2 separate regions of the Homo sapiens genome follow, and region 1 is linked to region 2. The links come from fine-mapping of genetic effects on gene expression. A gene starts in region 2. The other region holds a variant in brackets. All regions are shown on one strand. Distances are from middle to middle.

Region 1 (5,542 bases), 260 kb before region 2:
GTTACAGCCCTTTTCACGCCTGCCATTCCATGGGTCTCGAGTTCTTGACCTGTGTCCAGGAAGAATGAGGTTATGTGGACAACTGGAGGGTGTGCAAGGTGAAGAAGAGCTTTATTAAGCAACAGAACAGTTCTCAGCAGAGACCTGAAGTGGGTAGCTCCTATTCACAGGCAGGGTTGGACTGAATCTGGGGTTTTTATGGGCTCAGAATAACCCCAGGAAGGTTATTATGAGCCCGTCCTCGAAAAGGAGGAAGTACATGCTGGGCAGGAGAATTGGTCCATGGAGAAAGTGCACGTTGATTGGTCAATGGGTGGGCCAGGAAAAAGCATCACCTGATTGTCCAAAAGGCATCAAGGAAGTTCTTACTCTATGTCTTGGACTCCATCTGGAACTGGCAACCCAACCCCCAGGCTTCAGGCCATCCTTGGCTTGAAGGTCGGGCCTCACTGCAGACCCGCCCCTTCCCACCTAGGAACCTATCTGCCTCCTGCCATCATCAATAAGACTAACTCATACTTAATAGAAGGGATTACACAGAGGGGAATATAGCAGTAAACACAATACTTAATGGAAATGAAAATATCAAAGAATGGAAAAATAATAAGCAGTTAACAAACATAATAGAATAAATAATCCAATGTTCATCTTTTTCACTGTCTTGGATAAGATAGTAATTGTGACACAATATTGTAATTTCCTCATTCTTACCTTTCTCTGGATTGTGAGATCCTTGAGGGAACATATGTAACGTTTATTTACATCCCAAGTGTCTTTCACAGTGCCTGAAAATGTTTAATGAATAGAAATATATTGCATATCCCAGAGTCATTCTGCATTATAAGATTTTATGGGAATTATTCCTGAAGGATAAGCATAGAACAAAAAAGTCAGTGATAGAGAATAGCTCTCCTAGATACTCTCACTAAATCTCTACTCATCAAAATGCCATCCAGAAGTGAGGGGATGATTATTTGAGTTATAATGGGAAAGTTTCAGATTTGATGGGGTGAATAATAATATTGGGTAAATCCCCAGGGCTGCTGAATAGCTCTAAGATGCAACTGTAAAGCAAAGGGAAGACAACAGTGACAGGAGCTGACTCACTTTAGCTCTCCACTGTAATCAGTCATTAATTGACTGTTTCTCTTCTAAGGCAGATAACCCCAGAGAGTGTTCTATTTTATGAATTATAACAAAAGTCATTTGAAACTTTTTAATAGTTGCATGCAGCATAGGAAGAACATGTTAATCAGTTCTACTCTCCCAAGAGCTGGATCCCTGTGGACATGGAGAAAACAAGATCATTGCTGTTGGTAGCTTAATTCTAATAGTTATTACAATGAGATATCTAGGGTCTTGTTCTTCCTTCCAACTTTTATAAAGAACTGCAGAAGGTGAAAATCAATTTCCCACTTGCTCTAGTTTTAAATATTACCCATTGATGTCATCACTCAGAATCCCTTAAGATTTTTCAGTTATGCAGAGAGAATCACATGAGTAAATGTAGCCATCTTTCAATTTTACCAGAAAAAAAATGGCCTAAGAAAAACTTATTTTATCAATAAATCCAAATATTTCTCATTCTTTAGTCTCTCCAATCTATAATTCCATCTTTCTTTTCTCAACTCCTTAACTATCAGGGACAATAAGTCAATTGTTAAATGAGTTAGTGGGTTGAGTATCTTTTCTTTTTACTTAGAAGACAGAGAAAACATGAAAAAACAAATGACATTAAACTGAAGCTTAATTTTAAAAATTTACTTCCAAAATTTATTTAACCCTTTTAAATGTTAAAGTAACATATAGTCATAATTATATATTACATTTTCACATGGTTATATGTTAACTTTTTTATTTTTACAAGACTAAACAGGGAAAATTAAAAATTCACTTCTTTGAAACTCCCGTTATCTTTGCATATTTATGTAAATCATAGTATTTTAGAAATTGAAGAGGAAGAAATTCTTCCAAACTCATTCTACAAGGCCATTGTTACTCTTATACCAAAAACCAGACAAAATGCAACAAAACCAGAAAACTCCAGGCCAATATCCCTAATGAACATAGATACAAAAACTCTTAAAAATATAGCAAACCAAATTCAATAGCACATTAAAAAGATCATTCACTATGATCAAGTGAAATTTGTCCTAGGGTTGCAAGGATGGTTCAACATACACAAATCAATAAACATGATATATCATGTTAGCAGAATCAAGGACAAAAACTACATGACAAATAAAAGGCATTTGATAAAATTCAACAGGCTTTATGATAAAAACTCTTGAACCAGGTGTACAAGGAACATACCTCAAAACAATAAAGTCCATATATGACAAGCTGACAGCTAACATCATACTGAATAGGGAAAAGTTGAAAGCTTCATCTCTAAGATTTGGAAAAATATAAGAATGCCCATTTTTAACACATTTATTCAACATAGTACTGAAGTGCTAATCAGAGCAAGTAGGCAAGACAAAGAAATAGAAGACATACAAATTGGAAAGGAGAAAGCCAAATTGTCCCTGTTCACAGATGACATGACCTTTTATATAGAAACCCTAAAGACACCACCAAAAAAACTGTCAGAACCAATAAACTAATTCAGTAAAGTTGCAATATACAAAATCAGCATCCAAAAATCAGTAGTGTATCTATATGCCAATAGCAAACTATCTGAAAAAAATCAAGAAAGCAATCTCATTTATAATCACTACAAAAAAAAGATACCTAGGAATAAATTTAACCAAGGAGGTGAAAGATCACTACAATAAAAACTATAAAACATTGTTGAAATATATTAAAAAGTACACAAATAAATGGGAAGATATCCATGTTTGTGGATTGAAAGAATTAACATTGTTTAAAAGTCTATGATACCCAAAGCAATCTATAGATTCAATGCAATCAAAATACTAATGATATG[A/C]TTCACATAGAAAAAATAATTCCTAAATGCATGTGAAACCACACACACACACACAAAAACCCCAAATAGCTAAAGCCACTTTGAACTGTGCTTTTGCGGTCTTTGAACAAGAAGAATAAAAGAAAAAAGAATAAACCTGGTGGCACCATACCACTTGACTTCAAAATATACTACAAAGCTATAGTAACCAAAACAGCATGGTACTGGCTTAAAAATTAATATAGACCAATGGAACAAAATAGAGAACCCAGAAATAAATCTACACAATTACAGCTAATTGGTTTTCTACAAATGTGCCAAAAACACACACTGGGGAAAGGCCAGTCTCTTTAATAAATGGTGCTGGAAAAACCGGATATCCACATGCAGAAAAATGAAGCTAGATAGACCCTATCTTTTCATCATATAACAAAAATCAACTCAGAATGGACTCAAGATTTAAATGTAAGACCCAAGATGACAAAACTACTAGAAGAAAGCATAGAGGAAATGCTTTATAACATTGGTGTAGGCAAGGATCTTTGGATAAGACCTCAAAAGCCCAGAATACCAAAACAAACAAATGAGATTACATCAAGCGAAAGAGTCTCTGCACAGCAAAGGAAACAATCCAAAGAGTAAAGAGACAATCTATAGAATGGGAGAAAATATTTGCAAACTATTCATCTGATAAGGGGTTAATATCCAGAATGTATAAGGAACTCAAACCACTCCTTAGTAATAATAATAATTAATTATTATTATCTGATTTAATGAAAAAATGCTCAACATCACTAATCATCGTGGAAATGCAAATCGAAGCCACAATGAGATATCCCCCCACCCCAATTAGAATGGCTACTATGTAAAAAATAACAAATAACAAATGCTAGCATGGATGTGGAGAAAGGGGAACTCTTATACACTGTTGGTGAGAATATAATTAGTACAGCAATTACTGAAAACAGTATGAAGCTTCCTCAAAAAATGAAAATAGATTAAAATTAAATTAAATCAAATTAAATTAGATTAAATTAAAATATGATCCAGCAATCCCACTATTGCCTATGTATCCAAAGAAATTAAAATCAGTATGTCTAAGAGATATCTTCACTCCCATGTTTATTGCAGCACTGTTCACAATAGCCAAGATATCTCATCAACCTAAGTATTCATCAATGGATGAATGGATAAAGGACTGTGCATATATACACAATGGAATACTATTCAGTCATAAAAAATGAAATCCTGTCATTTGTGGCAACAAATAACATGCATTTGTTGGACTTCGAGGACATGCATTAAGTGAAATAAACAGGCACAGATAGACAAACACCACGTTTCACTCATATGTGGAATCTAAAGAAGTCTATCTCATAGGAATAAAGAGTAGAATATTAGTTACCAGAAACTCCTGGAAACCAGTAGTTAACCAGGAGAGGGGAGTATGAGGAGAATTCAGTCAATTGATACAAAGTTGCAATAAGATAGAGTAGTAAATTCTAATGTTCTTTTGCACAGTAGGGTGACTTACGGTTAATAAGATCGTATTGTAGATTTCAAAATATTCTATATTAAATATTACTCTATATTATATGCTAAAACATTATATTATGTATTAAAATATGTATATTTTTCTACAGCTAGAAGAGAGAATTTTGAATGTTCTCACCACAAAGAAATGATAAATATATGAGGTGATGGCATGCTAAATACCCTGATTTTTTTTTTTTTTTCCTGAGACGAGTCTCACTCTGTCGCCCAGGCTAGAGTGCATTGGTGCGATCTCAGCTCACTGCAACCTCCACCTCCTGGGTTCAAGCGATTCTCCTGCCTCAGCCTCCTGAGTAGCTGGTACTACAGGCACGTGCCACCATGCCTGGCTAATTTTTGTATTTTTTTAGTAGAGATGGGGTTTCACCATATTGGACAGGCTGGTCTTGAACTTCTGACTTCGTGATCTGCACCTCAGCCTCCCAAAGTGCTGGGATTACAGGCGCGAGCCACTGCTCCCGGCCTAAATGCCCTGATTTGATCATTATATAATGCATACATTGCAAAATATGACACTATACACCATAAATATGTACAATTATTATGCATCAATTTAAAAATATTTTTTAATACAAAAAATTTTTGAAAGAATAAAAAGCATAAATTGAAAATCCACTTCCTTCAAAATCCAGTTATCTTGGCATATTCATGTAAATTATAATATTTTAGAAATGGGGATGCATTATAGCTGAAATTTTGAAACACAATTTTTCAAAAGTTAATGTATTTTATTTAATATATAACTATATTTTAATAATTTCAATTTTAATATAGTATTCTTTAACAATTTATATTTACTCTCTAATACGTTTTAATATGTTTAAAAATATATTTGAAATATTTACTATGTAATACACTCAAAATATGTTTAAAATATTTTTGTTTAGCTTCCGTATCAACACACACACACACACACATACACACACATGCGCACACACACATACACACACATGCACACACACACACGCACACACCACATTTTTCTGTGACTTTATACTTTTTATTTATGAATGTACATATACTTAACCATTATTCAGTCAATGAACATTTAGTCTGTTCCCTTTTTTTATCCACAATATA
Region 2 (5,000 bases):
TGAGTTGGTGTGGCATTTTCAATATTCAGTACGGATTCCCAGTTATATGTTAAAAATAATCCCTTCTGTCCCAGGATACTCATCAAAGTACTGCTATAGTGGAATCTTCCCGGAAACAGACAAATGAAAGCCAGTCTCTCTCAGGGCTAACCATTGTGAAGTCCAACGTGCTGCCCACTTGACTCTGGGCTGGAGCCTGCCTGAGCCCTATAGTTGACCCACTTAGCAAGCACATATAAACCAGTGAGAGACCCTAACCAACTGCCAGTGAGACATTTAAGAAGTTTCATACAAATATTAAATTGCATTTACTTGTCACAGATGGTCATACAAAATGGAAAAGAATAACATATTTAAACAGTCTATTCAAGTCCAAGAGAAATTGAGCATTTACTCTCATTTCATAGTTTGTTAGGAAAGTTTGTAATGAGGGATTTGCAAGTGAACATGGTATGGTGGAAAAAGTGATGAGGATTTTTGAGCAAATTTTCTGCATGTTAGTGCTCTTATTGATTATATACTTATTGGATATTTGAAAGAAAAAGAAGTAAAGCATAAAGCTTGGGTTTATTTAATGCCCTCAGAAGGCTAGGTTGAGGAAAATAATAAAGAAATTTTCCGAGCTACTACCGTTTTGGAGTTAAAACAGATCATGGAGCCTCCATTAACACACAAGATACTTTCTTACTGCTTTAATAAAATAAATGATAAGATTCTGTTAAAACAAACAGAATATAGTTTAATCTACGTGACACCATCATTCTGGTTGGCATAGTAAAACTGATGAATGACTAACAGTACCTACAATTACGCTCTTTTGTACCAATAAAATTTATTTAAGGCTGGGCATGGTGGCTCATGCCTGTACCAGCACTTTGCCAGGCGGAGGTGGGAGGATCACTTGAGGTCAGGAGTTAGAGACCAGCCTGGCCAACAAAGCGAGACCCTGGTCTCTACCCCCCTCCCCCAAAAAAAATGCTGGGCATGGTGGTATGTGACTGTAGTCCCAGCTACTCAGGAGGCTGAGGCAGGATTGCTTGAGCCAGGAGTTGCAGTCTGCAGTGAGCTATGATGGTGCCACTGCACTCCAGCCTGGGTGACAAATTTATTTAATTGGTTTTGGTTTGATTTTGTATTATTATTACTAAAACTCCAGAAAACTTTTACAGCAAAAAAAAAAAACAACAAAAAACAAAAACAAGAAAGAAAGAAAAGGAAAGGAGGATGGGAGAAAGGCAGGAAGGGAGGGAGGAAGGTAGGAAAAGAGGAAGGGAGGGAGGAAAGAAGGCAAGCACGCAGGCAGATGCCTAAATAAAGAATACATAGGGGCCTGGACAAATAAATTGCTTTATGGACTGTTATGCACCCATACAATAAGTTAGACTTACATGATGAGTAAAGCTTTTTAGGATACATGAAGTGAAAACGTTAAAATAAGCGGGGGAGAAAAGGCTAAATATAAAATAATGCCATTGTGTGTGTGAGAGAGGATCACAATGATATACAAATTCCAGGCTAACGGTGACAGTGGCTGCCTCGGGGAGTGGGACTAAGGAGGGGTAGGTGGGGTTTGACATTTTACTTTATTAATTTTGGTATTGTCTGAGGGTTTTTAAACCATAAATAATGTATTAATTTTAAAAATGCTTTTAAAAATCATCATTTTCAATAGTTAACGGTCTATGCTTCATCAACGTTTTCCGTTTAAAACCTGTGTGCGGCCCACACACGTATGACATTCTGATTATGTGATTCACTGCTGAAAAAGAACTGGACGCCAGGAAATTGGGGGTTGAGTCCGAAGCAAGGTGAACGCCGGACATCGAGACATGGAATCCTAGACCGGCCCGGAAGTGCCTCTGCTCCGTCCGCCTTCGAGGAGAGGTCGGCATCTTTGTTCCCTGCCCGGCCATTGTTCGTGCCGCGCTTCTAGCAACGCCGGGCCGGTAACCCCCTCTCCCTCCTTGCGCGTTCCGGGTCTCGTGAGTTGGCTGTGGGGACCGGGAATGGAGGCGGGTCAGGGAGGGTGGGGCTGGAAAAGGGGTGTGGAAAGTGAACCTCAGCCGCTGGGAAGTGGGAGCCGGAGGAGGGGGCGGCGGTCAGTGCCGGGCGGCTTCGGGCGTCCCCTAGACCAGAGTGGTCATCCCCAGCTGTGGGGACATTGTACAAGAAAGGGTTGTAGGAGGACTGCGAGGCTGAAGGGTCACCTCGGTGAATAACGACAACAGGCTTAGGACTCAGGGAAAGAAACACCCGGGAGAGGAAGTTAAGGACAATTAAGACTTTGGCAGCCTTCACGATGGAGAACCTGTATACCCTCTTACCTCTAGATTCTGAAAGCAAATTAAGGGGCGTTGAATGGACTGGTTTTCAAGCGCAGAATGTAGCAGTTCCCGATTCCCTTTTCCTTAGTTCATTGATTCTCAAACCTTATAATACATACAAATCACTGAGGAGCCCGTTAAAGGGCATATTCTGGGTCTCCCTGTACTTCTCTCCACCTCCCAATTCAGATTCCCCAGATGTCTGCCATAGGGCCTTTCAAGCTGGAATTCAGCTGCTGCGCTGTGCTTCCTGGCATTTTGGAGACACACATTTTGGGAACACCCCCATGGGTTTCAGGTGCTTCCTGCGTCTGTGGAGAAAACTTTTCCCTTGGGCTTCTTTGGCTTCTTAGGATTGTCCTCAAAAAGAAGTTGACCTTGGGCAATCTACTTAACTTTCCCTGGCTTCCATTTCTTATCTAGTGAAATAATTATTATAATAAAACCTCAGTGGGTAATTGTGAGGATGAAATATAGTCTTGTATCTGAAAGCATATTGTAGACTTGTGCAGTGTTGACTGTTATTCTTCAGTAGCAGCAGGGCGGTGTGGAAAGCTCCAGGACTTGGAATCCACCTAAGCCTTTCTTTCTGTAAATTTAGTGAAAATAATACTAACCTTAAATGGTTGTTTTGAAGATTAAGAAAACTGAAGTAAATAGTAAAGTAAATGTTGGTTCGTTCATTTAGTCGACAGTAACAATATTTCCATTTATTCTTTCTCTAAGTTGATGTTTATACAGTGAGTTCAAACTTTTTATTCAGACTTTCTGAGTGATCGGTGCAGTCCCTAATTCATGGGCTGTTTTCCTCCATGAACTCTGTGAAGCATTATTGCTATTTCTTCTTCACATAAAGAAATCAAGATTGAAAGAAGATTTAAAAACTTGGCACAAGGTCACACAACTAGTAAATATTAGGATCAGAATAAAACCTAGGTCTGGGTCAGCTGTGGTGGCTGACGTAATCCCAGCACTTTGGGAAGCCAAGGTGGGAGGATCACTTAAACCCAGGAGTTTGAGGTTGCAGTGAGCTGTGATTATGCCACTGCACTCCAGCCTGGGAAACAGAGTGAAATTCCCCATTTAAAAAAAAAAGAAAGAAAGAAAACCCATATCTGGGTAACTTAAAAGCTTATGCTCTTAGCACATTATGAATATATATATTTCCATTATTTCCATCCTTTGGTCACCAAATCACTTTTCAGAGAAGAGCTTTAGGGCCTATGATAATTGCTTGTATTATCAGTTTCTGTCATCAGCTATTATCATTTTTCTATATAAATAATTTATTTTTACTGCTTAGGCAAGCGCCTCCAAGGTTTGTCTTGAAGCATAGCTCCAGCTGGAGGGTACCTTTTAAGCTGTTCAAGGTCAAGATGAATACAAACTCAAAGGAGGTTTTATCCCTGGGTGTTCAAGTTCCCGAGGCATGGGAAGAACTTCTGACAATGAAAGTGGAAGCAAAAAGTCACCTTCAATGGCAGGAATCCAGACTGAAACGCAGTAATCCACTGGCAAGGGAAATCTTCCGAAGGCACTTTCGACAGCTGTGCTACCAAGAGACCCCTGGACCAAGGGAGGCTCTTACTCGACTCCAGGAACTTTGCTACCAGTGGTTGAGGCCACATGTGAGCACAAAGGAGCAGATTTTGGATCTGCTGGTGCTGGAGCAGTTTCTATCCATTCTGCCCAAGGAGCTCCAGGGCTGGGTGAGGGAACACTGTCCAGAGAGTGGAGAAGAGGCTGTGATTTTGCTGGAGGATCTGGAGAGAGAGCTCGATGAACCACAACATGAGGTAGGAAGGGAGATTTGCTAGAGAAAAATGTGTATTTTGGCATGCCAAGAATCCTTGTCACTTCTGCTTTGTGTCTCCTTGACATTGGTGATAAAATACTCTCTTCCTGTTTCCTTCTTTCTTGGAAGTGTTTATTTCAGACAGTTAATTTCTTCAAAAGTCAAATCTTGTCTTTTTGTCCCCAGATGGTGGCCCACAGACACAGACAAGAAGTCCTCTGTAAAGAGATGGTGCCTCTAGCAGAGCAGACACCACTGACCCTTCAGTCCCAGCCTAAGGAGCCACAGCTCACATGTGACTCTGCTCAGAAGTGCCATTCTATTGGAGAGACAGGTGAGGGACAGCATTTATTTGATGTTGAACGAATCCCACCTGGTCAAGCAAAAACAAACAATAAACCCAGAGCTGGGAAAACAGGAGACCCAAAGACTCCTTACCAGATAGCAGTAATGGTCAGTTCTTCTGAGAGCCTAGTGTGCTCATCTTTGACCCTTCTCCCTGCGTGCAGACTTCTCCCTGAGTACCACCCTGGAAGCTTTCTGGACTTCTGATGCATGGTACATGAGGAAGGCTTTCAGGGATCGCTGTGGAGCACAGCTTCAGAGAATGGACTTCAAGGTTTGACAGACAGGTTCAGATCCTGGCATCGCCTCATGGAAGCTGCTTGTATTGGGCAGATTACTTAACCACTTGACCTCAGATCCCTCATCTACAAAATGGGGTTGATAATAGCTTTGGTTTAGTCTACTTGCGCTGCCTTAAGAGAATACCACAGACTGGTTGTCTTTAACAGAAATTTATTTTCTCACATTTTCAAAGGCTAGTAGTCCAAGATCAAGATACCATCAGGTTTGGTTTCTGGTGAGGCCTCTTCCTGGCT

What was found. PIP is the estimated chance that this variant, and not a neighbour inherited with it, causes the effect.
Region 1: its variant is fine-mapped to the expression of ZSCAN9 in whole blood (INTERVAL, PIP above 0.99).

Annotation. Positions count from the first base shown.
Region 1 is chr6:27,967,528-27,973,069 of GRCh38, forward strand. No RefSeq gene overlaps it. Among named protein-coding and RNA genes, the nearest start is that of OR2B6, 13 kb to the left of the region's middle. The variant A/C (reference allele first, on the strand shown) is at 2,930.
Region 2 is chr6:28,223,385-28,228,384 of GRCh38, forward strand. ZSCAN9 (zinc finger and SCAN domain containing 9) reads left to right here and starts at 1,891. Exons shown (of 4, transcript NM_006299.5): 1 at 1,891-1,982; 2 at 3,628-4,120; 3 at 4,306-4,453. The coding sequence starts at 3,701. RefSeq lists an enhancer at 1,696-1,795.